Linked DNA regions of Homo sapiens. The protein of the gene in region 3 purifies or fractionates together with the protein of the main gene of each other region. This does not show direct contact. Each region holds a gene or a part of one and is shown on either strand. Other genes may lie near its edges. The genes, in order: TC2N, PDCD2L, GPBP1L1 and KANSL2.

Evidence for each region.
Region 1: the proteins of GPBP1L1 (region 3) and TC2N purify together in Homo sapiens (affinity purification with mass spectrometry; 2 studies listed by BioGRID and IntAct, with this or other methods). This does not show direct contact.
Region 2: the proteins of GPBP1L1 (region 3) and PDCD2L purify together in Homo sapiens (affinity purification with mass spectrometry; 2 studies listed by BioGRID and IntAct, with this or other methods). This does not show direct contact.
Region 4: the proteins of GPBP1L1 (region 3) and KANSL2 purify together in Homo sapiens (affinity purification with mass spectrometry; 2 studies listed by BioGRID and IntAct, with this or other methods). This does not show direct contact.

What each region holds. Positions count from the first base shown.
Region 1 is NC_000014.9:91,864,537-91,872,459, reverse strand, and holds the start of TC2N (tandem C2 domains nuclear protein), read left to right. Parts: upstream 1-4,923; 5' UTR 4,924-5,198; intron 5,199-7,923. Other genes in the region: FBLN5 (fibulin-5 isoform 2 precursor), read left to right, coding at 2,075-2,236.
Region 2 is NC_000019.10:34,421,161-34,426,737, reverse strand, and holds the end of PDCD2L (programmed cell death protein 2-like), read right to left. Parts: intron 5,220-5,577; coding exon 5,071-5,219; intron 749-5,070; coding exon 618-748; 3' UTR 570-617; downstream 1-569. UniProt on the Homo sapiens protein: Over-expression suppresses AP1, CREB, NFAT, and NF-kB transcriptional activation, and delays cell cycle progression at S phase.
Region 3 is NC_000001.11:45,634,351-45,641,657, reverse strand, and holds part of GPBP1L1 (vasculin-like protein 1), read left to right. Parts: intron 1-1,254; coding exon 1,255-1,448; intron 1,449-7,307. UniProt on the Homo sapiens protein: Possible transcription factor.
Region 4 is NC_000012.12:48,679,084-48,687,386, reverse strand, and holds the start of KANSL2 (KAT8 regulatory NSL complex subunit 2), read left to right. Parts: upstream 1-5,148; 5' UTR 5,149-5,200; intron 5,201-5,745; 5' UTR 5,746-5,754; coding exon 5,755-6,005; intron 6,006-7,553; coding exon 7,554-7,732; intron 7,733-8,236; coding exon 8,237-8,303. UniProt on the Homo sapiens protein: Non-catalytic component of the NSL histone acetyltransferase complex, a multiprotein complex that mediates histone H4 acetylation at 'Lys-5'- and 'Lys-8' (H4K5ac and H4K8ac) at transcription start sites and promotes transcription initiation.

The DNA.
Region 1 (7,923 bases), on a different chromosome or scaffold from region 3:
CTTGCAGCTTCTGGGCACAGGGCTGGGCTCTGCAGTGTATGGGAAGTGATTGTCCAGCCCATCCCTTTTCTTCTTCACACTGTTTCCTCTAACAGTGCCAATATCTGTCCCTTGCACTGACCGCGAGCATCTCTCATTAGGTGGGTGCTAGGAAGAAGTGAAACACACATCAGCCTCTTCTGATACCTGCTGTGCAGTGAAAAAAGCCTGGGGCTTGGGGTCAGAAATACCTGAATGGAAGCCCTTGGTTCTGCCCAAGACTAGCTGGGTAACCCTAAGCAATTATTTAACCTCATGGGACCTCAGTTTGCTTACTTATAAAACGGGGAAGTAATGAGTCATACCTTTCATACAGCACTTAGACAAGGACAGCCAGGGCCCCCCCACCTGGGTCCTGTGCTTTTAGATCAATATTTCTCAATACTTAATGTGCACACAAAGCCCTGGGGATTGTGTTAAGCCACAGATTCTGGCTCAGTAGATCCTAGCCCTGAGATTCTGCATTTATAAGAAGCTCCCTGGTGATGCCCATGCTGCTGGTCCAGGGACCACACTTTGAGTGGCAAGGCCTTTCAGGGTTTTATGAGAATTTTTTTTTTTTTTTTTAGCTGGAGTCTCGCCGTTGTCCAGGGTGGAGTATAGTGGTGCGATCTCTATTCACTGCAACCTCTGCCCCCCAGGTTCAAGCAATTCTTGTGCCTCAGCCTCCCAAGTAGCTGGGATTACAGGCACCTGCCAACATGCCCTGCTAATTTTTCTAGTTTTAGTAGAGATGGGGTTTCACCATATCAGCCAGGCTGGTCTCCAACTCCTGGCCTCAAGTGATCCGCCCACCTCGGCCTCCCAAATGCTGGGATTACAGTTGTGAGCCATGGTGCCTGGCCATTTTATGAGGATTAAATAAGCAGATGTACATAAACATGGTTAGAAGAGTGCCTCACACATGATGGGTGCTCAGTTGATGTCATTCCTCTCTGCCTTCCTCCTTGAAAGTTTTAGAAAAAGACTCAGTGGAGGAGAGAGTTCACGCGAAATTATTAGGACCACAGTGATCAGGTTACAGAATGGTGAAGCTGGAGATGACTCTAGGGTGCCTAGAGGGGGGTTCTTAAATTCCACCTTTCCCAGGCATCACCTAAAAATATACTGACATAGAAAATCTTGGAATGGGCCCCTGGAATTGTTAGTTTAACAAAAAAAGTTCCAGTAGCCTTTGATGCCTTTTTTTTTTTTTTTTTAAATTACTGATCTGGTCCAAACCCTCATTTTATTTTTCCTCAAAAACGTTTTTTAAAACTTTTATTCCACTTTCAAGAGTACATGTGCATGTTGGTTGTATAGATAAATTACTGTGTCGTAGGAGTTTGGTGTATATATGATGTCATCACCCAGGTAATAAGCATAGTACCCAGTAGGTAGTTTTTCAATCCCCTCCCTCCTCCTGCCTCCCACCCTGAAGCAGGCCCTGGTGCCTGTTTTTCCCTTCTTTGTGTCCATGTGTATGTACTCAATGCCAAACCCTCATTTGAGAGATGAGCCCCAGAGGGGTGAAGTGACAGCCCTAAGCCATGCAGAAGTTTCAATCAATGATTCGTTCATCATTCAATATATGTTTTCTGAACACCTTCTGTGTTCAAGGCACCATGCTGGCTTCTAGGGGGACTCAGTGGTGAAAAGCCTGACCCCAGTACCTGTTCTTACAGAACTCATAGCCTAGTGGGAGCCTAGATATCAGACACGGATCAGGTAGACAGTATGGACAATCATACATGGTCATAAATGCTTTCCATCCTGTACAAAGTAAAGGCTGCAGCGTCAGAGGTCGCAGGGGGACCTGACTTAGATTGGGGAACCAGAGAAGGCTCCTCTTAGGAAGTGACCTTTCAGATGAGACCTGAAGGGTTTGCAGAAAAGAACCAGGTGGAGAGTGGGCAAAGCCAGGGAAAGAGCATGGCACAGTTGAGGCACCGAGGGGGTGCCAGTTTGACTGACGGAGGCAAGGGAGCGCCCAGGTGGGGCTGCAGGGCCACCATGCAGGCCTTTTCTCACTGGTGTTCCCCGGTTCTGTCCATAGCAAACGGGCCCCATCAGTGCCACCCTGGTGATGACACGCCCCATCAAAGGGCCCCGGGAAATCCAGCTGGACTTGGAAATGATCACTGTCAACACTGTCATCAACTTCAGAGGCAGCTCCGTGATCCGACTGCGGATATATGTGTCGCAGTACCCATTCTGAGCCTCGGGCTGGAGCCTCCGACGCTGCCTCTCATTGGCACCAAGGGACAGGAGAAGAGAGGAAATAACAGAGAGAATGAGAGCGACACAGACGTTAGGCATTTCCTGCTGAACGTTTCCCCGAAGAGTCAGCCCCGACTTCCTGACTCTCACCTGTACTATTGCAGACCTGTCACCCTGCAGGACTTGCCACCCCCAGTTCCTATGACACAGTTATCAAAAAGTATTATCATTGCTCCCCTGATAGAAGATTGTTGGTGAATTTTCAAGGCCTTCAGTTTATTTCCACTATTTTCAAAGAAAATAGATTAGGTTTGCGGGGGTCTGAGTCTATGTTCAAAGACTGTGAACAGCTTGCTGTCACTTCTTCACCTCTTCCACTCCTTCTCTCACTGTGTTACTGCTTTGCAAAGACCCGGGAGCTGGCGGGGAACCCTGGGAGTAGCTAGTTTGCTTTTTGCGTACACAGAGAAGGCTATGTAAACAAACCACAGCAGGATCGAAGGGTTTTTAGAGAATGTGTTTCAAAACCATGCCTGGTATTTTCAACCATAAAAGAAGTTTCAGTTGTCCTTAAATTTGTATAACGGTTTAATTCTGTCTTGTTCATTTTGAGTATTTTTAAAAAATATGTCGTAGAATTCCTTCGAAAGGCCTTCAGACACATGCTATGTTCTGTCTTCCCAAACCCAGTCTCCTCTCCATTTTAGCCCAGTGTTTTCTTTGAGGACCCCTTAATCTTGCTTTCTTTAGAATTTTTACCCAATTGGATTGGAATGCAGAGGTCTCCAAACTGATTAAATATTTGAAGAGAGCTTGTGTTTGGTTCATTTTGACATCATAGACGAGTCAGCCTTTGGGGTTCTAGTTCTGTTTAAACCTGTTTATTGTGCGCTGGCTTAGAAAGCTCTCCAGAGAGCTAGGGCATTATCTGTGACTCTGGCAAATTGATGGGAGGGGGGCGGTGGGGCAGAGAAATAGGGGTCGTGGGGAAGTTAGGGGGAGGCATCATCCCTGAGTCCTGTTTCATCTGATTAGAAAACAACCAACAATCCTTCTCTTACGTAGATTATTTCCGGTGCTCCTGCAGAACAGGAATGTATTCAAGTTACTTTAAACCAGTGGCCTTCAACCCTGGCTGCATAGACGGATAACCAGTAGAACTTTGGAGGAAAGATTGATTCCCCGGGACATGCCCCCAGACACTCTGATGTCATTGGGCTTAGGTAGGGCCCGGCCATCAGGATTTTTGAAAACTTGACTATGTAGCCAGAGTTGAGAATGTATTGTTATAAACCCTAGAAAGAGAGGTGGACAGATGGGGCTGGAGCCCTAGCTGCCTTGCCCTCAATGTCTTTTCTGCTCATTGTAGGATACATTATTCTTTTCCTGGTCAGGGCCTCTGGACATCCTTCAAGTCTTAGAACCCTGTGCAGGGGCCAAGAGAGTCAACATTGCAAGTCACAGGAGAACAGGTTGGGATGGCTGTCTTTATGTGCCATCCCAGGAATCAACCCAAGGCTTCAGGAAAAAAGTGCACTCCCTGATAGCTGAGGTGGAGTCTACAGATCCATCTGAGGGTGCTCCCATCCTACCTGTTGGTGAGGTATTCATTAAGGACCCCCACAGTGCCTATCAGGAGTTGTGTCCTGGACCCCTAGTCTTAGTAGGCATTCCACAGATCCTTGTGATATGGACAGGAGACAGGGAAATACTGGGTAGAAGAGGGTGGTTCCCTGGCAAAGGCCCCACCCTCAAGCCTGGGTACCCATGGCCCTAAATGAGGACAGCCATTCCTGTTTTCATCCCTAAAAAGTTGCCTTTTGGCCTGCCATGTCCCCTATCCTGTACCCATATAAACCCTGAACCCCAGGCTCCAGGCTCCAGAAGCAGACGGGGAGACAAGAAGATGAGCAGACATGAATGGCAGAAAAGCACGGCAAAGAAGGAGAGAAGAGAAGGAACATTGGGAGGAATTCGACTGGAGACGATCTGAAAACTGGCCACTGGATGGCCAAACTCCAGGGGAAGATCATCTTCCCACTCCATCCCCTGTCCAGCTCCCCATCCATCCTACTTAGAGCCACCTCCACCACTCAATAAAACCCCTGCATTCATCCTGCAAATCCATGTGTGACCTGATCCCTCCGGGATGCTGGACAAGAGCTCGGGATACAGGAAACTGTCACACTGGCCCTCTGCCCTGGCAAAAAGGGAGAGGGTCCACTAAGCTGGTTAACGCTTAAGCTGTCCACGGATGGCAAGGCTGAAAGACTGCACTGTTTCAGTGCCTACTCGGGCTTTGGAAGTCACAGACACCGACCCCGGGATGCTGTCATGGGGCTGGGGCCCAAAAGTGCTCACCCTGGTTCCTGCACCTGCCTGTCTGCGTGCTCCCCTTCCCATAAGGGGTTTTAGCTTGGGGTGGCTGAAGAGAGAGCCACACCCCTGTTGCACATCCTGTGAGGGGGCCAGGGAATTCTCCTGTTCCACTTAGTAGTATCTTAGGCCTTCAGTGGAAGGAAACAGCATGTTCCACGCCCTGTAGCATCCAAGAAGCTGCAAGTCCTCCCTCCTCACCCCAAGAGCATTTCTCACACCCACACCACACACCTCACTTTGCTGTTGGCTGTGGTTATTTTTTTCTCTAACTAAGCACATCTAAACCATGCCTAGTTGTGGTTCTTCAGTCAGGGTCAAGTGGTGTTAGCAATCACATCAGCACCAAATGGCTCAGGATGCTCTGGTTTCAAAGCTTATAAAACAGAGGGTGATTCCCTTGGGACTCACTCAGCTCGGCTCCGAAAAGCAAAGGCCAGAAGGCAGCAGTGAGCCTGGGTCCCTGCTGTGTAGGGAGACTCAGGGGCTGGGAAGAAGGATGGAATCAGAAATGCTGAAGGTTTACGTGAGCTTTGCACCGAGCGCCTCCGAACCACTGCCTCTGGGCTCAACAGAACACAGGGGTAAGTCTCCATGAACTTCTCAAAAAGAAAACTGGGAAGCTTTCTGTCTTGATGATTTGAGGACCCACTGGTTTCAGAGGTGCCACATTTGGAACCAGATCCGAGTCTTTAAGGTTTGTGTTTTATTTGTTCATGTCAAAATGTGGCTTCCTGCTTCTAAGAAAAGAAACTCAGGCTCATAAAAGCAGCCTCCAAGGGCTTCTTGGACCTCAAATTGCGCTTTCAAAATGTGGTCTGATGGGTTCAGTGTAAATGCACCAGAGGCATGTGGGATCCATTTACCTTAAAATACACTTGGGCCTAAAAATTAAGAGAAAAACAGTCCAGGGCAAAGTGTATACTGCAAAGTCAAGCTCCAAACATTTGGGAAACAGTTCTAGAGGCTGCTGGAACCCCAAATGCTACTTGCTTTACCTACCCCTTGGGAATCATCAAATGTTATTTTTTGTACAAGACTGGGGATGAGCCTGCTCTCTGATCCCAGTGCTGTGCTCTGCTGTGCAGTTCTAATGGGGCAGGCTGTTTCCTGGACCCTGAGATCTCCAGGCTCCCTGTGCCTATTCCTTGTCAGCTTTGCCCCATCCAGGAGCTGGGCTGAGCTTGTCAAGTGACCTCTGCTTTGTACCACTCCATCAGGTCCTGAAGAATGAAGGGTACCAAGGTGGAAGGGGCGCAGGATTAAGAGTAGGGACGCCTGCAAAAGCTCTCGTGTTACCACCTCATCTTCCAACTTTCATGTGGGTGAAAACGTTCATCCTAAATAATTGCTTCTAATTCTGAAGTTTTGTGATTCCTTGAAATGTACTTTGGGGATGACAGCCAGCATTTCCATTTCACTGCAATTTCAGAGTTTTGCAGTGGTTTGCCAATCATAACACTTTCTAATTGGCACAAAATCCACCTACCTGTTGCCTCTCAGGCTTGGGTAACATACTTCAGACACTTTCTTAGGTAAGTCTTGGCCCTTGGGGTGTTATTTGCCCAGATGGTAAAAACATTTAAGTAGGTCTGATTATTTCATTTTCAGTGGTTTCAACGCATTTTTGTGGCCTGGGTGGTTACTGTAATGTGCCCAAGTTGTTCATTCTGAGCCAACGGGGTCACCCACAGAGAGAAGACTTGACAAAGGAACTCTCCTCTACTCCCCTCTTGCCAGATGAAATATTGTTTGTAAAAGGTCTTTGTCTTGAGAGGATCACATACTTTGGTTAAGAATCCACTTTGGTTAAGCCGGTTGCTGGATTCAGAGACATGAACAGGATAGACAGTCCACCGATAACTTTATAATAACACCTTTTTAATAACACCTTTAATAACTTTTTAATAACTTTAAAAGTTATTAAAACTTTATAAAAAGTTAATCTAAAACTTTAATAACTTTTTAATAACACCTTTAGCCAGGGGTTTATGCAGCATACACGACAAAACTGGAATATAATGTGGTAGGTGCAGTAGCAGGGTCCACAAAATTATTTTAGTTAGATTTTAAAAATTATTAAGACATCTGTTTTATACAAGAAAAATTCTTATGAAAATTTATAGACATGTGTTTGAAATTTAGAATAAGTTGCCTCTGCTTAGAATTATTAAGTATTTTGAAAGGAAACACTAATAAATGCTAGATAAACTTTTTCTTTTTGATACAATTTGTGTTTACTTTAAATGCAATATTTTTTTATCTGAAAAAAAACGTGAGCACTTAGCAAATCTCTTCATTATTTTGGAATTGGCCAATGCTTATAAACTACAAACAAATATACAGATTGTTCCTTGTGCTGATATTTTTGTTTTCAAATTTCTTAGTCCTGTTACTTAACAAATGGCTGATATCTTTGTTGGAATCCCTGAACATAGCTAAAAGATGTTTTTTTAAAAAAAAAAAAAAAAAAAAACCAAGAGGCTCCAAGACAAAGGAGTGCACAGAGGCAAAATTTATCACTTTGGTAGCTTTTGCGGGGATGAAAGCCTCCAGTTAGAATGTTTGACTTACTAATGGTTCTTAATAATGAATCTTAGCCAGCAGCCATCAGAGAAATAAATCATTAAAGTGAGAAAATAGGTGTCAACACAGGAGTGATCTACTGAATTGCCATTTTGGTGTTCTTTCAGAGGGGAACTGCATGTTGACAGGCAGTGACTTTTTCAGGAATTTGGGATATTCTTGAGCAATAATGTAAAGATGAAGGCAGGGGGCTGGGCACAGGGGCTCATGCCTGTAATCTGGGAGGCCGAAGTGGGCAGATCACTTGAGGCCAGGAGTTCAAGACCAGCCTGGTCGACATGGTGAAACCCGTCTCTACTAAAAATACAAAAATTAGGTGGGAGTGGTGGCACACACCTATAATCCCAGCTACTCAGAGACTGAGGCAGGAGAATTGCTTGAACCCAGGAGGCAGAGGTTGCAGTGAGCTGAGATTGCACCATTGCATTTCAGCCTGGGCAACAGAGCGAGAGTCTGTCTCAAAAAAAAAAAAAAAAAAAAAAGATGAAGGCAGGGTAAATTGTACACACATACAAATACAGTGCCATTATGATACCTGTTTATTAGGATTTGAGAAATTAATTAACATTGATTTAAGGCCACAGAGTCATTGGATCACTTGATTCTGTTTAAAAGAAGTTTTCGTTTGGGTAGGATTGTTTTGGTTTCAACCTGTTCCTTTTTTCTAAGTCTTCGTTTCCAACCTTCTACTCAGAATGAATTTGACATTGCAAAACTGGCTTG
Region 2 (5,577 bases), on a different chromosome or scaffold from region 3:
GAAGGGAAGGGGTTGATCATGTTAAAAATAAAGAAAGGGGAAGACTGGAAGGCAGCTGGATAAAGGGACAGTCTCCAGAACGGAGTAAAGACCCCTTCCTGGGATACTGCAGGAGCAGAAGATGGGAGTGGGTGAGGGCGGGGACCTGGGCTGATGAACATGGGCAGGTCTAAACAGCCAGGGTCACAGAGCAAAAACCTCCAGCAGCTAGAGCAGGTTCAGTGGCTTGATCAGGTGCCAGAAACAGCATAGGAAGCACTGGAGTGCACGTGTCAGAGGTGTACACAAGAGGCTGACCACTGCTCTTGGCTCTTTCGCTGCTCTCCTCCCCCCTAGAATGCCCACCAGAACGGCTGTGCAGACAACACCAGCCCTCTGGACTAGAGAGGAGCTACCTTCCTAGCTGCCACTGTGACAGCTGGCCCTGGACCCTGGAAGGGCAGACCAACCCACAGTCAGGAGGTCCTGGCCCGGCCCCGGCCCCGGCACCAGCACCCAAAGGCAAAAAGGCAACTCAGAAAAACAGAGGTTAATAACTTGTGAGTTAAAATAAGGTACATACAAACATATTTGGATGTAAACATTTGTTTTAATTTATATTAATAAAAGGAAATGCTCTACTTAAACAATAATTCATCTGGGTCTTCTTGTATAATACAAAATTCTTCCATGGGAGTCTGATGATTTGGGGGCCAGCAACTCTTCTCACATGTGTAAACTAGAATTGTTCCAAATTCCACAGAAAGACCTGAAAAATACCACATATTCAGGCTTCCAGCAAAAAGAGTTATGAGACTGATGTTACTAAAAGGAATGATTTTACCTTATAAGCTGAAAAAGTAATTAGGTAAAGCAAAAACAGTGCTTACTGCTTTCAGCTATAACAGAATCACAGTCTATCCTATAATAAGTGAATATTGATAACAAAAAAGCAAAATTAATTTAAAGTGGCAGGAAAATATACTTTAAAAATAAACAAAAATTTCAGCAAGTGTTCATTATAACTGTCTAGCTATCTGATGTTGAAAATCTATATTAATCTACATGGTTCATGTGATATACATAGCTTTTGGCTAGGTGCGGTGGCTCACAACTGTGATCCCTGCACTTTGGGAGGCCGACGGGGAAGGACAGCTTGAGCCCAGCCTAGGCAACATAGTGAGACACCTGTCTCTACAAAAAACAAAACAAACAAACAAACAAACAAAATATATATATATCTCATATAGCCTGGGCAACACAGTGAGACTTTACTAAAAAAAAAAAAATTCACTGGGTGTAACGGTGCACACCTGTAGTCCCAGCTACTCAGAGGAGACTAAGGCAGAAGGATCACTTGAGCCCAGGAGATAAAGGCTGCAATAAGCTATGATTGCACCACCGTACTCTGGCCCGGGTGATAGAGCGAGACCCTGTCTTAAAAAAAAAAAAAAAAAGAAGAGAGAAATATATATCATAGGACACACTACTGCCGAGAAAGGATAAGGATTCAGGCAAAAAATATAAAATAAACCCTAAGAGTTTACAGAAAATTATCAATGAATAAAGCCATTAAAAAAAGATACCAAGAAAACATAAGCAATAAGAACTCCTGATATTAGAACAGAAAAGCAGGAGTCAAGAGGATGACGTAGGCAATGATTTGCAGCAGCAAAGGAGAAATACATTGTTTAAAAATGTATGCATTGGCTGGGCACAGCACATTGGCTCATGCTTGTAATCCCAGCACATTGGGAGGCTGTGGTATATGGATCACCTGAGGTCAGGAGTTCAAGACCAGCCTGGCCAACATGGTGAAACCCCGTCTCTACTAACAATACAAAAAATTAGCTGGGCGTGGTGGTAGGCACCTGTAATCCCAGCTACTTGGGAGGCTGAGGCAGGAGAATTGCTTGAACCTGGGAGGCACAGGTTGCAGTGAGAAGAGATTGTGCCACTGCACTCCAGCCTGGGCAACAGAGTGAGACTCTGTCTCAAAAAAAAAAAAAAAAATGAAAAAATGGCAGAGTTTAACTGGTATATGACATTCCTCTAGGAGCATCTGACTGGTAAGGGAAAAGCGCCTCAAGTGAGCAAGTCTACAACTCCAGTAAACACACTGCGCATGCGGCCTCTCCCAAGTGCTGGAGGGCCACTATGCATGTGGACAGCCCACCCCAAGGGAAGAAACAAGAGAAGTAACCCAAGACCCAGGAAGTATAAAACCCCAAGTCAAAGGTCAAATGGACACTTGAATCTCTCAGGTTGCCTGCTTGGCCCTCTTCCAACTATATTTACTTCCTTTCGTTCTTGCTCTAAAACTTTTTAGTAAGTTTTCACTCCTGCTCTAAAATTTGCTTCGGTCTCTCCTCTGTCTTATGTGCCTCGGTCAAATTCTTTCTTCGGAGGAGGCAAGAACTGAGGTTGCTACAGACCCCTACAGATTCACCGCTGCTAACAGTATTGTGGCAAAAATGTTAGTCACAAAGGGGGAAAAAATCAGACCACCCTCATACCTCTACAAAGCTACATTCCATGCAAAAGACATTTCTATATGAGTGAAAAATCTCAGAGACTAGAATGCCCATAAGCCCTTCCAGAAAAATATATTTCCCAGTGAGACTGAACCACCAAGAAATGACAGGAGGCACCAGGGCAAAGGGCTGGCAGGGCTTTCACTGTCAGAAGACAACACAGGGGTCTATACAAGGTTCTGAAAAGAGAAAGTGGGATTTAAAAATTTTATACATGGGTTGCCCCTCAAATATGAAGCCACATTACCATGCACAATCTGAAGCAAGATACCTCTGAGCCCTCCTTAAAGCTATTACTTGAGAAAATCCAGCTACTGCAAAAAGAATCAAAATAAAACAGGAATAAAAAAGCTCACTCTAAGAGTGGTGATAAACACTGAATCCATTTACACATAGAACTAAGGCTATCCAAATAGCTGTGATAATTATGATACTGGCCAGGCGCGGTGGCTCATGCCTGTAAATCCCAGCACTTTGGGAGGTCGAGGTGGACGGATCACTTGAGGTCAGGAGTTCAAGACCAGCCAACATGGCGAAACCCCGTCTCTATTAAAAATACAACATTAGCAGGGCGTGGTGGTGGGCGCCTGTAATCCCAGCTACTCAAGAGGCTGAGGCAGGAGAATCGCTTGAACCTGGGAGGCAGAGGTTGCAATGAGCCGAGATAGTGCCACTGTACTCCAGGCTGGGCGACAGAGTGAGGCTCCATCTCAAAAAAAAAAAAAAAAAAAAAGATACTGGGTCCAGGCACGGTGGCTCATGCCTATAATCCAAGCACTTTGGGATGCCGAGGCAGGTCGGGAGCTTGAGGTCAGGAGTTTGAGACCAGCCTGGCCAACAACAGTGAAACCTGTTTCTACCAAAAATATAAAAAATTAGCTGGGTGTGGTGGTGGGCACCTGTAATCCCAGCTACTCAGGAGGCTGAGGCAGGAGAATCACTTGAACCTGGGAGGCAGAGGTTGCAGTGAGCCGAGATAGCACCATTGCACTCCAACCTGGGTGAAACTCCGTCTCAAAAAACAAAAAAGATACTGAAATATTTCAAGGTAGGAATAGGGTATAAATTTCCTTATCTACTATGGTAAGGAGCCAGATGCATACTATCTAAAACTGAAACACAGAAAGAATGTTATTTTCTGTTAATAGCAGAAGCACCTTTCAGAAACTTGGGCCTCTTAGGTAAAGAACCTATTACCAAAAGTCCAGGCCAGGCGTGGCAGCTCACGCCTGTAATCCCAGCACTTTGGGAGGCTGAGGTGGGCGGATCACAAGGTCAGGAGATCAACACCATCCTGGCTAACACAGTGAAACCCCGTCTCTACTAAAAATACAAAAAAAAATTAGCTGGGCTTGGTTGCGGGCGCCTGTAGTCCCAGCTCCTTGGGAGGCTGAGGCAGGAGAATGGCATGAACCCGGGAGGCGGAGCTTGCAGTGAGCTGAGATTATGCCACTGCACTCCAGCCTGGGCGACAGAGCAAGACTCCGTCTCAAGAAAAAAGAAGGAAAAAAAAAAAAATCCAGTAACTGCTTCACTTATACTTAACATTCCTTCTGTTAATTTGTACAAAAATTTGTTCTAAGACTTTTAATTACCATATTAGTGAATTTTCCTATTTTAGGAAAATTATTTTCGTCTAGCCATCCATACATTCATCTGACTTGCTATTTGTCTTTATGTCAAAAATGATTGTTGGAATAATGGTTATTAACATTGATAATAGTTTTAATTTCTGGCCAGGCATGGTTCATGCTTGTAATCACTTTGGGAGGCCAAGGCGGGAGGATCGCTTGAGTCTAGGAGTTCGAGACCAGCCTGGGCAACATGACGCAACCTTGTCTCTACAAAAAATACAAAAATTCCATCCTGGCCAACACAGTGAAACCCTATCACTACTAAAAATACAAAAACTAGCCGGGCGTGGTGGCGGGCACCTGTAATCCCAGCTACTAGGGAGGCTGAGGGAGGGGAATTGCTAGACCCCGGGAGCTGGAGGTTGCAGTGAGCCAAGAACGTGCCACTGCACTCCAGCCTGGGCGACAGAGAGAGACTCCATCTCAATAAATAAATCAATCAATAAATATTAAAAAAAAAAAAAAAAGACTGGCTGGATTATAAATTTCTTTTTTTTTTTTTGAGACAGAGTCTCCTCACTCTGTCGCCAGGCTGGAGTAGAGTGGTGCGATCTTGGCTCACTGCAACCTCTACCTCCTGGGTTCAAGCGATTCCCTGCCTCAACCTCCCAAGGAGCTGGGACTACAGGCACGTGCCACCACGCCCAGCTAATTTTTTATATTATAGTAGAGACAGGGTTTCACCACATTGGCCAGGATGGCCTCGATCTCCTGACCTTGTGATCCACCCGCCTTGGCCTCCCAAAGTGCTGGGATTACAGGCATGAGCCACCACACCTGGCCTAAATTTCTTAAAATAATTTTTTAATTCCCAAATTTTCTGTAATTTGCTTATGATATTTTATAAGTAAACAAAAGGTTTTTCATTTATTTAAAAATAATGCCAGAAATCCACAAACTCAAATTAATAAAGGGCTTCTCACCTAAATTAGCACTCTTGAGCATGCTGACCAGTGCTGGCATAAGCTGAAACTCAAATATCCTTTGGCCTCCACACTGGCTGCAGGCTGGGAGCTCGGTGACTTCTGATGTAGGGCAGGTCAAAAAGAGTGGCTCTCCACTCCAGGAATACCTAGGACAAGGAAACAAAGAACCCCGAATCAGAGCCACACAAGTCGCATTCTAGCATCTAAGGCCATGCTTTGCAACCTTTCTTTGTTTCTTGCAGAAATCTCCCAGAGGCCCAAAAACCTAGCACCATGGCTGTAAAGCATAGCAAGATATCTGGAAATCTTGTCAGTGTTCGATTCAAAGTCTCAAAGGCACTAAAGTCAATGTTCAACTGAATCTAGGTAAAGCTGCAACAAAGTCCAGACTCAGCTCCACTGCAGATTAAATGGAATCAGCCCTCCACATCACTGGCCTTACAGAGGAAAGGGCATGCCTTAGAGAAGAAGTCCCCAACCCCCAGGCCATGGACCCCCAGGCCA
Region 3 (7,307 bases):
TTTAGTAGAGATGGGGTTTCACCATGTTGGCCACGATGGTCTCGATCTCTTGACCTCATCATCCGCCTGCCTCGGCCTCTCAAAGTGCTGAGATTACAGGCGTGAGCCACCATACCCAGCCCATAACAATATATTCTTAAACATTCATATATATGTATGTTTAAATATTCGTGTGTGTGTGTGTGTGTGTGTGTGTTTATGTGTATGTGTGTGTATATATATGTTTGTGGTTTTTTGTTTTGTTTTGTTTTGTTTTTTGAGACAGAATCTCACTCTGTCGCCCAGGCTAGAGTGCAGTGGTGCGATAGGAATCTGTATTTCAAACCAAACCTCATCTGTGGCATTGGGATCTTTGGCATTTACAAATTGGACTCTCCTGGTTTCTTCATTAGACATGTTGATAGCCAAGAACATGGGAAGTCTTTAACATATCTAAATGATGGGTTTAGAATCCAGTATTGTAGGATTAAGATTGATCGATGTACCTTCTCCTCTTTGCTAATGGTGTATACCTTTGCTCCAGTTTGCCTCATCAGAGGGTTTCATGGCAGACTCCAATCCCTGATTACCTCATCTCTCTATTCTCATGCTGACAGGAGCTGCTACTTTTAGGTGTTTTTTTTTGTTTTGTTTTTGTTTTTTTGAGTTAGGGTCTGACTTTGTCATCCATGCTGGAGTGCAGTGGCACAGTCATGGCTCGCTGCAGCCTCGACCTGGGCTCAAGTGATTCTCCCGCCTCAGCCTCCTAAGTAGCTGGGACCACAGGTGTGCACCACCATGCCTGGCTAATGTTTGTATTTTTTGTAAAGATGGGGATTTGCCACAGGGTTTGCCAGCCCAGGCTGGTCTCGAACTCTTGGGACTCAAGTGATCTGCCCACCTCAGCACCTCCAAGTGCTGAGATTACAGGCATGAGCCACAGTGCCTGGCGCTTGGATTTATTCTTGTTGGGTTCATGCTTAACTGATCACACTGTCCATCAGACATATTGTGCCCCTGAAGGACTGCTAACATCTTTGGACTTCCTGGCTGATTTATAAATTTAGTATCCAGTTCCTCATATGCTGCATTTTTTTGTACAGTTCCTGAGTAGTCTCACTTTTGAGAGTATCTATTAAGTGCATACCAGGGAATGTTTAATCCCTCTGTCTCAACTGTCAGCTGTTTTGTTGACTAAGGCCTTTGTATAAACTATGCTTCATGTTACACAACAGGTTTGACATTCTGTTGTCTCTCCACTCTTGTACTTCACAGAAAACCCGCCTAGTGCCAAGCAACCCTCCAAGATGCTAGTTATCAAAAAAGTTTCCAAAGAGGATCCTGCTGCTGCCTTCTCTGCTGCATTCACCTCACCAGGATCTCACCATGCAAATGGGAACAAATTGTCATCCGTGGTTCCAAGTGTCTATAAGAACCTGGTTCCTAAGCCTGTACCACCTCCTTCCAAGGTATGATTTAGAATCAGGGCAAGAACCTTATACAAGAGAGGTTTGGGAATAAATCAGGAAAAAATTAATAAATTTGTTTTTTCTTGCCGCATCAGTCACCAGATATTCTTTCAGTACCTGTTATATGTATACAGCTTTCTTTGCTTTTTTTTTTTTCTTTTTCTTTATTTTTTTGAGACAAGGTCTCACTCTGTCACCCAGGCTGGAATGCAGTGGCACAATCATGGCTCAGTGTGACCTCAGCCTCCCAAGTAGCTGAAACTACAGGGGCACGCCATTATGCCCGGCTATTTTTTTTATTTATTTTATTTTTTGTTTTGTTTTGTTTTTTTGAGATGGAGCCTCGCTCTGTCACCCAGGCTGGAGTGCAGTGGCACGATCTCAGCTCACTGCAAGCTCCACCTCCTGGGTTCACACCATTCTTCCTCAGCCTCCCGAGTAGCTGGGACTACAGGCGCCCGCCACCACACCCGGCTCGGTGTTTTTTTGTATTTTTAGTAGAGACGGGGTTTCACCGTTGTTAGCCAGGATGGTCTCAATCTCCTGACCTCGTGATCCGCCCGCCTCGGCCTCCCAAGGTGCTGGGATTACAGGCGTGAGCCGCCACGCCCAGCCATTTTTTTTTTTTTTTTTTTAATTATTTTTTGTAGAGACAGAATCTCATTTTGTTGCCCAGGCTGGTCTCTATCTCCTGGCCTCAAGGAATCCTCCTGCCTCAGCCTCCCAGAGCGCTGAGATTATGGGCGTGAGCCACCACACCTGGCCCCTCTGGTTTTCTGTAATAGCAACAACATCCTAATCACTCAGCTTGACTATCTTGGCTACTTCTCTTCTCTTCCTCCTTAGTCATTCTCCTCAGCCAAGGAATTACAAAGTCCCTGTTATTCTCTCTATGCTGTCCTTGTTCAGGACTTTGTCTTCTCACATTTACTGTTCTAGTATACCTTTCTATTTTCTCATGTCTCTGTGTCCTACAGAACTGCCAGAATGATCATTCCAAAAACAATTGAATATATCACATGCCTTCCTGAATTCCTTCAGTGGCTCCAAACAATGTATGGCAGGGATTGGTAATTTTTTTCTATGAAGGGCCAGATAATAAATATTTTAGGCTTTGCTTGATATATATGATTTTTGTTACACATTGCCTTTTTTTTTTCCAGCTCTTTAAAAATGTAAAAATAAGTATGAGCTCATGAATCATACAGAAATGCCTTGGTCAAGATTTGGCCCATGGGTCATAGTGTGCTAGTCCTATAGTCAGTGTGCAGAGTAAGCAGAGGTCTGTGAAGTTTCTCATAGCCAAACTCTAATCCATCTTTTGCATCTTATTGCCCCTTTTTTCTCTTACCCGGGAAGAAATTATTCTTCTGGCGCATGCCATCCTCTCTGTGAATAATTTTCTTTCTTTTCTTTCATCTATTTATTTAAAATAGTGATTGGGGTCTCACTATATTGCCCAGGCTGGTCTCGAACTTCTGGGCTCAAGCCATCCTCCCACCTTGACCTCACAAAGTGCTAGGATTACAGACGTGAGCCACCGTGCTCACCCTCTGAATAAATTCACTGGGAGTTACTATCCTAGTGATAATGATTGGAGTTTTCAAGGTAGATTAGATATACAAGAGAAGAGGATGGAAGAAGAGAAGAGGATAGAAGAGGAGTAAAGAATGGGATAGTACTGAGAAACTAGTTCAGAAAAAAATGGTAAACTCTCACAGAAATACAAGTGGGTGAGTTTGCAATAGCAACAGGGGTAACAAGTTGAGGAAAATAACTGAGAAAAAACCTTAGTGATTATCTTAGGAGACTTTTGAGTTGATGTTTTTAGGGAATAAAGTAGGGCTGAAACAGTATTTCAAGGGCTTTTGGAAATATGTGGAGGTAGTGGCACCTTTTAACCTTGACAGTAAAAGGAACTAGATAGAATATAGGCAGTGGAAAAGATAAGTGAATGGATGAGGAAGTCTGTTGGAAGAAGCCACTGGAAGCAACTTGAACTGTACTTGGAAGAGATCATTAAAGGATTATGGGCCAAGAAGAAATATGTGGGAATAAAACTAATTGACAAGTACAGTTATCTTTGAAAAGGGTTTAGGATACTTAGGGTTTATTTTCCTCTGATGTAGAAGGGAAAGAATGTGAATTCAAGTGAAGAGAGCAACTATTACAAAGAAACAGCTGAGCATGGAAGTTAACTGCCGGGCTATGGAATAGACAGATTTCACCTTACACCTTCTTCATCTTACGTCCTTGAGCAAGTTTCTTCACTTCCCAGTCTCAGTTTCTTCTTCTATAAAATAGACATAACAATGCCCCCCTTTTTTTTGTGAGGAGTAAATGAGAAAATTTTATGAAATACCTAAAACTGGCATATAATAAGTGCCAATAAATGGTAGCTATTGTTACCAACCTGCCAGCACAACTTATGTTTGTCCCATTTCTTGAGAGTTTATAAAGACTTTCTTAAGTGTTACTTTAAGATGTCTGCAAGCATTCTGCAGGACTACAGAAAATATAAAAATGAGTAAGAAAATGTCATTGTGTCCTCAAGGATCTCATAAATCAAAAGGTAAAAAAATTTTTACAAGGATAAAAATTATGATACAAAACTTAAGATCACTTTAGCCCTGTTGTGAGTCAGGGGTAGAATGAAGATTGGAAAACTAATATAAAGGCTGCTGCTCTTGAAGCTTGAAGAGGATGGTAACAGTTGGCAGAGAATGGCAGAGATGGTAACAGTTGGCAGAGGTGGTAATGGCAGATAGTGGGAGGCAAATTAGGCAGCAAAAGAAAACAGAAGACATTCTTCCTGGGAAAATTGGGGTAAATATGGAAGGTCAGGTTTCAGGAAATGTGATTGTGGTTCTGGGTACGTAGGATATGAGATGTTAGAGGGAGGAAGAGGTAAGATAACTAATAAGCAGATGTTGATTTATCCATTCATTTTATCTAAACATTAGCAATAATTATTGAGTATCTGAGTAGTAAACACTGTGTCACTAGAGACACAAAATAATACTTGGCCTGTAATCGCAAAGAGTTTACTGTCTAGTGAAGAAAGAGTTATTTGAAAAAAATTGTGCTTCTCTGCCTGGGGAGGGTCATCAAAGTCTTTACGGATAACTGGGATTCAAATACATGATAAAGGAAAGAGAACTGCCATTTGTTGACATCTTACTATGTTGCTTGGTTAGGGCTTTTACACATATTAAAGCATTTACTCTTTTAATCCTGGGATATAGAGAATACACACTGTGGGGTTACATAGCTAATAAGTGATAGAGTCAGGCTTTTAACTCAGGTCTGACTTCAAAACCAGGGCTCTTTCTACTGTTCCAGAATGCCTCCTGTCTTGAAGGATGAAGAATAGAAGAGGAAGTTGAGAAATTAATCTTTTGACTCAAACTTAACTAAGTTGAAATCTTTGTGACACTTTCTAGGGTTGTGATCTTAAGCAAGTTATTAGATTTTGCTAAACTCTTCTTGACAGTAAATTGGAGCAAGTACTTGGAATATAGTTTTTGAAACATCCTAATTACCCAGTAAGTGGACGTTTAAAAACAGTAGTACAGTAGTTCATTAGAAAGCAAGTAGGTAGGGCATTCTCGGCAGAGGGAACCTGTTGTTAACCAGAAAATGGATGCAGAATATGGTATGTTTGGAGTAAAGGAACCATATTGGTTCGGTATGGCTGGTATGTGAAAGTGAATGGGGAAGTCAGACTTGATGGAGGCCTGTATAAAAAGAACAGGAGAGAAGTTAAAGTAGGTAGAGATGCAATTTTACATATTATCTACACAATTTTAACATTTTAAACTGAAACAGTTATAAGTAATTGCTTTTTCTAATGAAATTCACCTAGTTCAACAGACTACAGAAGAAGAAGAGTACTGAGTCTGGAATGCTAGTATACTTACATCCATTGAAAAGAAGGGAATTCAAGAGGTAAAGAGAGAACTGAGAGAGTGAAGCATCAGGAAATCAAGAAGGGAAAAAGGGACAGGTTCAGAAAATATTCATAATGAGCAATATCGCATTTCCCAAAGAAGACAGGTTTTTTAGAGCTGGCCTTTGTAATATAAGGATGAAAGTTTTGGTTATTTATGAAAGAGTTTTACTAAAATTGGGGATAGAGGTGAGTATTGCAGGGAACTAAGCAGTAAATAGTTAATGAACGAGTGAAAGATAATGTATACTGACTTACTCAGAAGTTTGGCAATAAGAAGGTGGTATATAAGATTGAGGGAAAATAAGAAGTCTGGCCTTTTTCTCCTAATTTCAATAAGGTGGATTAGCATATTTGATAAACCCAAAAGGAAAGAGAAGAAAGTGCTAGAAAGGGAGGAGGACATTCCTTTGAACTTGAGGGGCAAACGGCAGAGGAGGTGGGAGAAAGTTTGAGCCCAGTGATTTTAGAATTTTTAGTCCAGTAGAAGAAGATTCTGAAGTGGAGCAAGCTAGGGTTGATTCAGAATTTAGAGGAAAAGGAGAGAACATTTAAAAAACAACAACAAAAAAAACTGGTTATACAATTCACTTTAATGGACTTTTACATGTATAATCATCTAATAAAAACAGGTGTGGGGCATAATGATTTTTCCAGGGGGTAGTCTAGCTATCTCATAGGGTTTAAGTTACTGAAAATTAAGTTGAAATAAAATTGGCACAGACATAGATATTCTGTTTTATGTAACAGAGTAAATCTTTTGTACTACTGTGGCAGAAACCCAAGTGTTTCTGTGCTCTGGAGTGACATTGTTTTAAAGACAGGACATCTGGTGACTACAACTCAGGGGAAGCCACAAATCATCTTTGAGAGTTAACCTGACACAAGCAACCATCTTTAGATTTTTATCAATGCAAGAAAAAAATTAATCTTCATTCTGGTTGGGTCATCGTTTCTCTTATCTGCTTGCTTGTTCTTTGTGGAGGCATTTTGGGATAGTGGAAAGGTGGTTTCATTTACTAGCTGAATAACCTTGAACAAATTGTGGAACTTCCTTATTGTCAGTGTCATCCTCTATTAAAAGTCAGCGTAACAATTATTATTCCTGATTGGTTTAAGAATTAAATAAAACAGACTGACCATCACCTGGTACATGGTAGATAGTAAAGTTAATTCCTTTCCTAAAGCTATTATTGTGTCTTCTTTTAATACCCATCAATCAAGAAAGCAACCAGGAAGGGAATCCATTTCACTCAGGCCCCTTTGTCCTGGAGGTCCTCTGTTCTAAGTGTTTCATTCTGGAAAAATAAGTTGGAAGTTTTTCATTTGCTTCAGCACCACTCCACTGGCTTGCCACATCTTCCTTGGTCTCCTTGGACAGTGTGGTAACTCAGTATTCCAGCTTTCTATCATACTTGGGGTTATGGCCAGAGTGACAGAATGGGCCCAGACCCTGCAGAGTTGAGTAGACGGGCCTCCAGACTAAATAAATCAGGATTGTTCAACCATTTACAATAGCCACCCTGGCCTGGAACTAGCCTTTTGCCATCAGAGTTCCTGGAAAGCAGCAATTTTGTGATGCACTTTGTGGGCTATCAGGATTACATCCAAAGTTAACAAACACTACTAAAAAAAGTTTTGGGATTCAATAAATTAGGAAAATGCTGCATAACTGCCTCTCAAATTCTTATGTGCAGTTAAGTGCTTTGAGAAATTGCACAGTGAAGAACCTTGTTGAACTTTTTTCACCCCGGCACCTCCCAAACTCATTGAACTATTGAACTAGAGCCCTGTTTTTGGGAAGTCACTATTAATGTCCAATGGCTCTTCTGTATCCCATCTACCATTTTCCTTGAAGTGCCTAACCTCCGAAAGAGGTTGCATACTTCCCAAACATGTTAAGACAGGTA
Region 4 (8,303 bases), on a different chromosome or scaffold from region 3:
CTGACAGTTTAGGAATTCTGGTGTGGTTTGAAGCACTCCCCTGCTTTTCATTCATTCCTTCTTTAGAAAATAATACCTACTTCCCAACACTTTCGGAGGCTGAGGTGGGAGGATTGCTTGAGGCCAGGAGTTCAAGACCAACCTGAGCAACAAAGTGAGACCCCATCTCTGCACACAGACATACAAATTAGCCAGGCACAGTAGTGTATAGTCCCAGCTACTAGGGAGGCTGAGGAGGGAGGATTGTTTGAGCCCAGCAATTGGAGGCTGCAGTGAGCCATGATTGACCACTGCACTCCTGCTGGGCTATAGATCTATACCCAGTCTCGGGAAAAAAAAGTTAAAAAAAAAAAAACTAAGTGCTGTGGACTGTACTAATGGGAATATGGCAGTAAACAAACATTCTGCCTTCAAAGAATTTACAAATAAGTAAAACATAGTATGTTAGGTGGTGATAAGCACTTAAAAAAAATTTTTTTTTTTGAGACGAAGTCTCACTGTCTCCCAGGCCAGAGTGCAGTGGTGAGATAACAGCTCACTGCATCCTTGACCTCCCTAGGCTCAAGTGATCCTCCCATCTCCTGAGTAACTGGGACTACAGGTGTGCACCACCACGCCTGGCTAATTTTTTTAGAGATGGGGTCACCCTATGTTGCCCAGTCTGGTCTTGAACTCCTGGGCTTAAGCGATCTGCCCGTCTGGGCCTCCTTCACTCTTGTTGGGATTATAGGTGTGAGCCACCACACCTGGCCATAATAAGCACTTTGGAGACTAAAACAGGGAATAGGGGATAGGGATGTGTGTGTGCATGTGTGTGTGTGAGCACGTGTGTGTGTTTAGGTAACTAGGGCTGTGGGAATTGGAAAAAAGGTGGCTAGGGAAGGCTTCATGACCAGAAGCTTCATGACCTTTAGGGAAGACCTGAAGGAGGTGACAGCAAGTCATGGGAATAACTAGGATAAGATCATTCCAGGAAACGTGAGACATCAAAGGTTCTGAGGTGAGAATATGCTGGTATGTTTGAGAAATAGCAAGGAAACCAGTGTAGCTGGTATAGGAATGAGTGGGGAGGGGGTATTGGAGAGAGGAGAGTAGCAGGATATGAGGTTAGAGAGGCAATAGAAAGCCAGATACAACAGGACCTTGTATAAAGACAGTGAATGGAACAGACGCTATTGGAAAGTTTTGAGAAGGGAAATGACATCCAACTTAGGTTTTAAAATGTTCATTTGGGCTGCTGTGTTGAAAATAGATCATAGGAGTCAAGGGCAAGGAGCTCTCACAATTTAGGTAAGAGATGAGGGTGGCTTGGACAGGTTGGAAGTACCCAAGGTAATGAGAAGTGATGTATCTTTTTTTTTTTTCTTTGAGATGGAGTTTTGCTCTTGTTGCCCAGGCTGGAATGGAATGGCGTGATCTCAGCTCACTGCAACCTCCGCCTCTCAGGTTCAAGCGATTCTCCTGCCTCAGCCTCCCAAGTAGCTGGGATTACAGGCATGTGCCACCACACCCGGCTAATTTTGTATTTTTAGTAGACACAGGGTTTCACCATGTTGGCCAGGCTGATCTTGAGCTCCTGACCTCAGGTGATCCACCCGCCTCAGCCTCCCAAAGTGCTGGGATTACAGGTGTGAACCACCTTGCTCAGCCGAGAAGTGATACAGCTTGAAGATGGAGCTAATAGGATTTGCTATGAGGTGGAAGAGAAGGAAGTGAAGGATAACTCCCAGTGTTTGTCCTGACCAACTGGAAGGTTGGGGTTGTCATATACTCAGGTAGAGATGACTACGGGAGTAGCGGGAGGTTGGCTTTAACATTAAATTTGAAATGCCAATTAGACATCCAAGTGGAGATGCCTACTGGACAGATGACTAGAGAGTCAAGTTCAAAGGAGGGATCCAGGCTGGATATATGCATTTGGGAGATAACAGCTTATGAATGGGATGAAACAGAGTGAGATAACTAAGGAAGTAGTAGTAGAAAATAGAAATGTTCAGTGTTTAGAATTGGGGAAAAGAGAAACGAGACAGAGAGTGGGTGACTGATGTAGATGGGAAACTAGGAAGAGTATGGAGATCTAGAAAGAGTATAGAGTTCTAAGGAGGAGGAGTGGCCAAGTGTGTTAGACATTGCAAAGTGGTCTAATAAGATGATGCCTGAAAACTTCATTAGAATTAGCAAGGTGAAGGTCTTTGATAACTTTTTTTTTTTTTTTTTGGAGACAGTCTTGCTCTGTCACCCAGGCTGGAGTACAGTGGCACAATCTTGGCTCACTGCACCCTCTGCCTCCTGGGTTCAAATGATTCTCCTGCTCAGCCTCCCAAGTAGCTGGGATTAAGGCACATGCCACCACACCTGGCTAGTTTTTGTACTTTTAGTAGAGATGGGGTTTTACCATGTTGGCCAAGCTGGTCTTGAACTCCTCGCCTCAGGTGATCCACCCGCCTCGGCCTCTCAAAGTGCTGTGGTTATAGGCGTGAGCCACTGCGCCCAGCCGTTTTCATCTTTTTTCTCACTTTTCTCTAGGATTAGCCCCCCAAACTCTAGTTTCCTAATCCCTATTTACAAATAGCTTCTGGTCTACTTTAACCTCTTCAATAGCTACAAAGTGTTCAGTGAATTAAAAATAACCATCTACCTCCAGCCTGGGCAACAGAGCAAGACTCCATCTCAAAAAAAAAAAAAAAGCCATCTACTTTGTTAAACAGAACAAAGAATTTGCTGACATCTTGAGCTCTTAATATCTGCTCCCTCCTTTCACTTAGAAGTGGTTCTAGGCCGGGCATGGTGGCTCACGCCTGTAATCCCAGCACTTTGGGAGCCTGAGGTGGGCAGATCACGAGGTCAGGAGTTGGAGACCAGCCTGGTCAATATGGTGAAACCCTGTCTCTATTAAGAATATAAAAAAATTAGCCGAGCATGGTGGCGCACACCTGTTGTCCCAGTTACTTGGGGGGTAGGCTGAGGAAGAAGAATCCCTTGAACCCAGGAGGCGGAGGTTGCAGTGAGCCGAGATCGCGCGCCACTGCACTCCAGCCAGCCGGGGCGACAGAGCAAGACTCCCGCTAAAAAAAAAAAAAAAAAAAAGAAGTGGTTCTAAATAGTAATGTTTTGTCTGTCTTGGACTTACAAGAAGGATTCTTTTTTCAACTAAGACCTTCAGTAAATTCATTGAAAGAAAGTCTTTTGTTTCTTCCCCATCTATTCCTGTGTCTCTTCATATTGTTCACTACAGTAGTTTTAATGTTGCTTTTTGATATTACTACATTTGGTTGCAGATTCGGATTCCCAAATTTTCTGTGACATGACTGCCTCTGGCTGTTTTTTAATTATAGGGTGTTTATAACAAAACATCTTTTTTCGTACTCCTGAGGGTTGGTCTGTTTGCTTATGTATATAAATCATTGTTATTAATATTATGTTTGTATTGCATCCATAATCCAAAGCTATCCTAGAATGTTCACTCCAAGAGAGCAGGGTTATCTTCCTTGTTCTCTCCTGGCACTTAGGTGCTCAATAAATATTCGTTGAATGAATGAATTTCAGGCCTTCTTCTAGGGCTGCTCTAGTCTCTGGAAACAGCACAACCCCCAAGGTTTTTTTTTTTTTTTAATAATTTATCGGTCCTATAGTGTATTTATTTATTTATTTATTTATTTATTTATTTATTTATTTGAGATGAGGTGTCTCCATATTGCCCAGGCTGGGATCGAACTCCTGAGCTCAGGTGATCTTCCCACCTCAGCTTTTCAAAGTGCTGGGATTACAGTGGTGAACCATGACGCCCAGCCTTAGTGTTTTTCTTGAGGGCTGTGGAATCTTTATGTTCACTTCCACTGGGACTCATGCTCACTTGCTCGTTAGGCATGGATAAAACATCTTTCTTAAACTGACAGTGAGGAGATAAGAGATGCTGGAAAGCAAAAAATGTCTAGAAGGGTTATGGGAAGAAAGCTAGGAATCATTTCTACAAGTGGTGGAGATGACAGAAAGATGCTTTTAAACTAAAAATCCTTAAAGGATGGTATGATTGGTATTGTGTCTGTCATTTTTATGATACCTGCATTATTTAGCATGGAATTTTAAAGACAGGGCACACAGTTATGAGAAGCAGCCCTAAACTAGAACAAATATTTCCTTATTCTCAGTCCAATGCTCTTTACTATATAAGAGGCAATAAGGGATAAAGAATGCGGGCTGGGTTCAAATTCGTCTTCCTTTCCCATTTAATAGCTATGGTCCCATTCTGTTCCTCAGTCCTCTTATCTGTAAAATGGACATAATACTAACCTGTACCTCTTAGGGTTGCTTTGAAAAATTCAATGACTTTATACATGTAATTCCCAGAATCAGTAAACACCCAAAAAATGTTTCTCAGTGTTCTCTATACCAAATGTTCAGTACATGTATTGAACTGTTCACAAAAGAAAGCTAAAGACTTTTTATGTGTAAACAGTGATCCTCCAGCCTCTGTCTGATTTATTTTTTATTTATATATTTTTTTGAGACGGAGTTTCGCTCTTGTTGCCCAGGCTGGAGTGCAATGGCGCGATATCGGCTCACCGCAATCTCCGCCTCCCAGGTTCAAGAGATTCTCCTGTCTCAGCCTCCCGAGTAGCTGGAATTACAGGCGTGCACCACCACGCCCGGCTAATTTTGTATTTTTAGTAGAGACGGCGTTTCTCCATGTTGCTCAGGCTGGACTCGAGCTCCCGACCTCAGGTGATCTGCCAGCCTCAGCCTCCCAAAGTGTTGGGATTACAGGCGTGAGCCACCGCGCCCGGCCTGTCTGTCTGATTTTATACTAGCTGTGTACAGTGGTGAGGGAACAGCAGCCTAGGACCACAGACTGAGGGTCCAAAAGTAGCCGGAAAACGAGCCACGCTGCAAGGTGGAAAAATATTAGCTGGCAACCCGCCCCGCAGCCCGCTCTCCGCCCCCTTCCCCGGCTCACTCTCCTCCGGGCGGAGTTGCTGACAGACAGTCTGTCTTAGCCACCCCAACCTCGCATTTTCTCAGCGCTCCGCCCTCCCAGACACGATAGGTAGTTGGTCTCGGCCAATGGCGACATCCTGTCATACGAGCGGTAGCCAATGAGTAGCCAGGAGTCCGGAAAGGGGCGAGGCCGATCTGAGAGCCGCTGGCGCCACTAGAGAAGGGCGAGCGGCGCGGCAGAGTGCGGCGCAGCGCAGCTCCTGAGGTAAGATGGCGGTGCTCTTTCCTCTAAGCTCTTGCGGTTGGGCTGCTATTTCGCTCTTTTTGTCAGCTCAGAGCTGCTACTCCGCCTCAAAGCAGTGTCAGAGTCAGTCTCCTTCCTGCAGGCTTCCAGGAGCCAGGATCTCCGGTGACTGGAGCCGTAGGACAAAATGGCGCTCGCATAGGCTTCCGAGGCCAGGCCCAGTCGTGCGCTCTGAGGCAGGCCGGGACAAAGGCGGCGTGCGGGGAGGCGGCGTGGCCGCCGCGTGGGGCTGGTGTTGTCGCTTCCCTTCGTGCTGCAGCTGTGCGAGTCCTGAAGATACATTCAGCGTGGTGTGGTTCGGGGTGGGGCCGGGCATGGAGGGACACGCTAAAGGGAGGCAAAGCCACAGATGCCTGTGGAGACTTGGGGAGGGCGGCGGGGACTTACGGAGCGTACCTTACGGGGACGACTTCTGCATGTCCTTTGGAAACTGTCCGCGCGATCTGTGTGGAGCAGGAATTTTCGGGAAGGGTAAGGGCTTTTTGGTCTTTCGTTTGACCCCGCAGGTTTTGGTTATGAACAGGATTCGGATTCACGTCTTGCCAACCAATCGGGGGAGGATCACTCCAGTGCCCAGGTCTCAGGAACCTCTGTCTTGTGCATTCACTCATCGTCCATGCTCTCACCCTCGTCTGGAGGGGCAGGAGTTTTGCATTAAGCATATCCTTGAAGACAAGAATGCACCCTTCAAGCAGTGTAGTTATATATCGACGAAGAATGGAAAAAGATGTCCCAATGCTGCCCCAAAGCCAGAGAAGAAAGATGGGTATATATGTATAGATATATATGTCGTTTTTCTTAAAGCGAGGGGGTATGTGATATGATGCGGGCTTCAGCATAGCTGCCGCGTTTGAGATTTTGTCCTTGTAAATTTGGGGTTATGGTTGTATCCTTGGAAAACTGAAAAAACGGTGAAGACTGGAAAGACCCTTGAGTTGGATTACTTAGTTCACCTCTTTGGTTCTTTTCCCTTATCTGTAAAATAAAGGCATATTCTAAATTAGTCTTTTTTTTTTTTTTTTTTTTTTTAAGAGAGATGGGGTCTTGCTATTTTGACCAGGCCGGTCTCAAACTCCTGGCCTCAAGGTATCCTCCCATCTCGGCCTCCCAGAGTGCTGGGATTACAGGCGTGAGCGACCGCGCCCGGCCCTAAAGTTAATTTTTTGGCGGGGGGGCGGCGCACAGATTCTTGCTTTATTCCCCAGGCTGGAGTGCAGTGGAGATCTCGGCTCACTGCAACCTCCTCCTTCCAGGTTCAAGCGATTCTCCTGCCTCCTAAGTAGTTGGGACTTAAGGCGTGCGCCACTATGCCCGGCTAATTTTTGTACTTTTTAGTAGAGACGGGGTTTCACCATGTTGGCCAGGCTTGTTTTGAACTGCTGACCTCAGGTGATCCATCCGCCTCGGCCTCCCAGAGTGTTGGGATTACAGGAGTGAGCCACCGCACCTGGCCCCTAAAATTCTTCTTAATGGAGGGGTGTGTGGCTCTATTTGGCTGTCCATGAATTTTGTTAAATAACATGCAAAGTTATATATGTGTGTATTCTTCTGTAAGAGGCTTCATAGTTTTCATCATGTATGCAAAGGTATCCATGCAAAAACATAACCTGACTAGATAATTTTTTACGTATCTTATAGTTTTAAAATTGTGTCCCTGGCTGGTCGCAGTGGCTCATGCCTGTAATCCCAGCACTTTGGGAGGCCACGGGAGGAGGATCACTTGAGGCCAGGAGTTGGAGACCAACCCAGGCAATACAGTGAGACCCCGTCTCTACAGAAGATTAAAAAACTCGCTGGGCATAGTGGCGTGGACATGTAGTCCCCACTACTTGGGAGGCTGAGGTGGGAGGATCACTTGAGCCTGGGAGTTCCAGACCAGACTTGGCAACATAGACTTCGTTTCTACAAAAAACTAAAAAAAATTTGCTGGGCACAGTGGTGCATGCCTATAGTTCTAGCTACTTTGAGGCTGAGGCAGGAGGATCGCTTGAACCAAGCAGTTTAAGGCTACAGTGAACTATGATTGCACCACTGCACTTTAGCCTGGGCAACAGAGCAAGACCCAATCCCTTGCCTCAGCCTCCCAAAGTGCTGGGATTACAAGGGTGAACCACTTCATCCGTCCTGTTATTTCCCTTTAATAAAGTCAAATGAGTTGACCTTGGGCCAGTTAAATTCCTCTGACTTGCATTTTTAGAAATGAATGTAATAGTCATTTTAATTCCCTAAAAATGATTTAAAGATTAGGGACTGTGAACATTATTGAACGCTTTCAAGAAGGAACTTATAAAATATTAATGTTTTGTCTCTTCAGGGTGTCCTTCTGTGCTGAACATGTCCGTAGGAATGCCCTGGCACTTCATGCTCAAATGAAGAAGACCAACCCAGGGCCTGTGGGTGAAACACTCCTGTGCCAGCTGAGCTCATATGCTAAGACAGAGCTGGGGTCTCAGACTCCAGAAAGTAGTCGCAGTGAAGCCAGCCGAATACTAGGTAAGGACCTTCTCTCCTGGAATGAAAAAGGAGGAAGAAAGTTAAGGGGGAACTATTTTGGGTTAGCACAATGCCTTGATCTATTTGGCAATATTGTTAATTCATCAGGAATTTGGTGAGAATGCTGGGATTGCTTTGTTGTTTACCAGTTCTTTTGAATTTGAAGTTGTGTTTGCCTAGGTTTACTTTCCTGAGTTGGTGACCATTTCTTTCATTGCTTTTTTAATGCTCAGCAGCTTTGTTAGGTAATTTCAGGAAACAGTAATTTTAAGTTGATTTTTCTGTTTGAGAGGGCATGGTTTACTCATTTATGTTGTAAGTAATCTTACTTGGGTTGTATTTTCTTAAAGCGTTTTTATTTGCCAGTACCTTTGTACTAAGTGTTTTTTTTTTTGTTTTGTTTTTAAAATTTCAAGGTTTGGGTTGATAAAAGTAATCTAGTTTTGTGTGGTGGAGTTACAGAGGTGGGAAGTCTTAATGGCTGCTCTCCCTTCCTTGCCTCAGATGAAGACAGCTGGAGTGATGGGGAGCAGGAACCCATTACTGTGGATCAGACATGGAGAGGTGACCC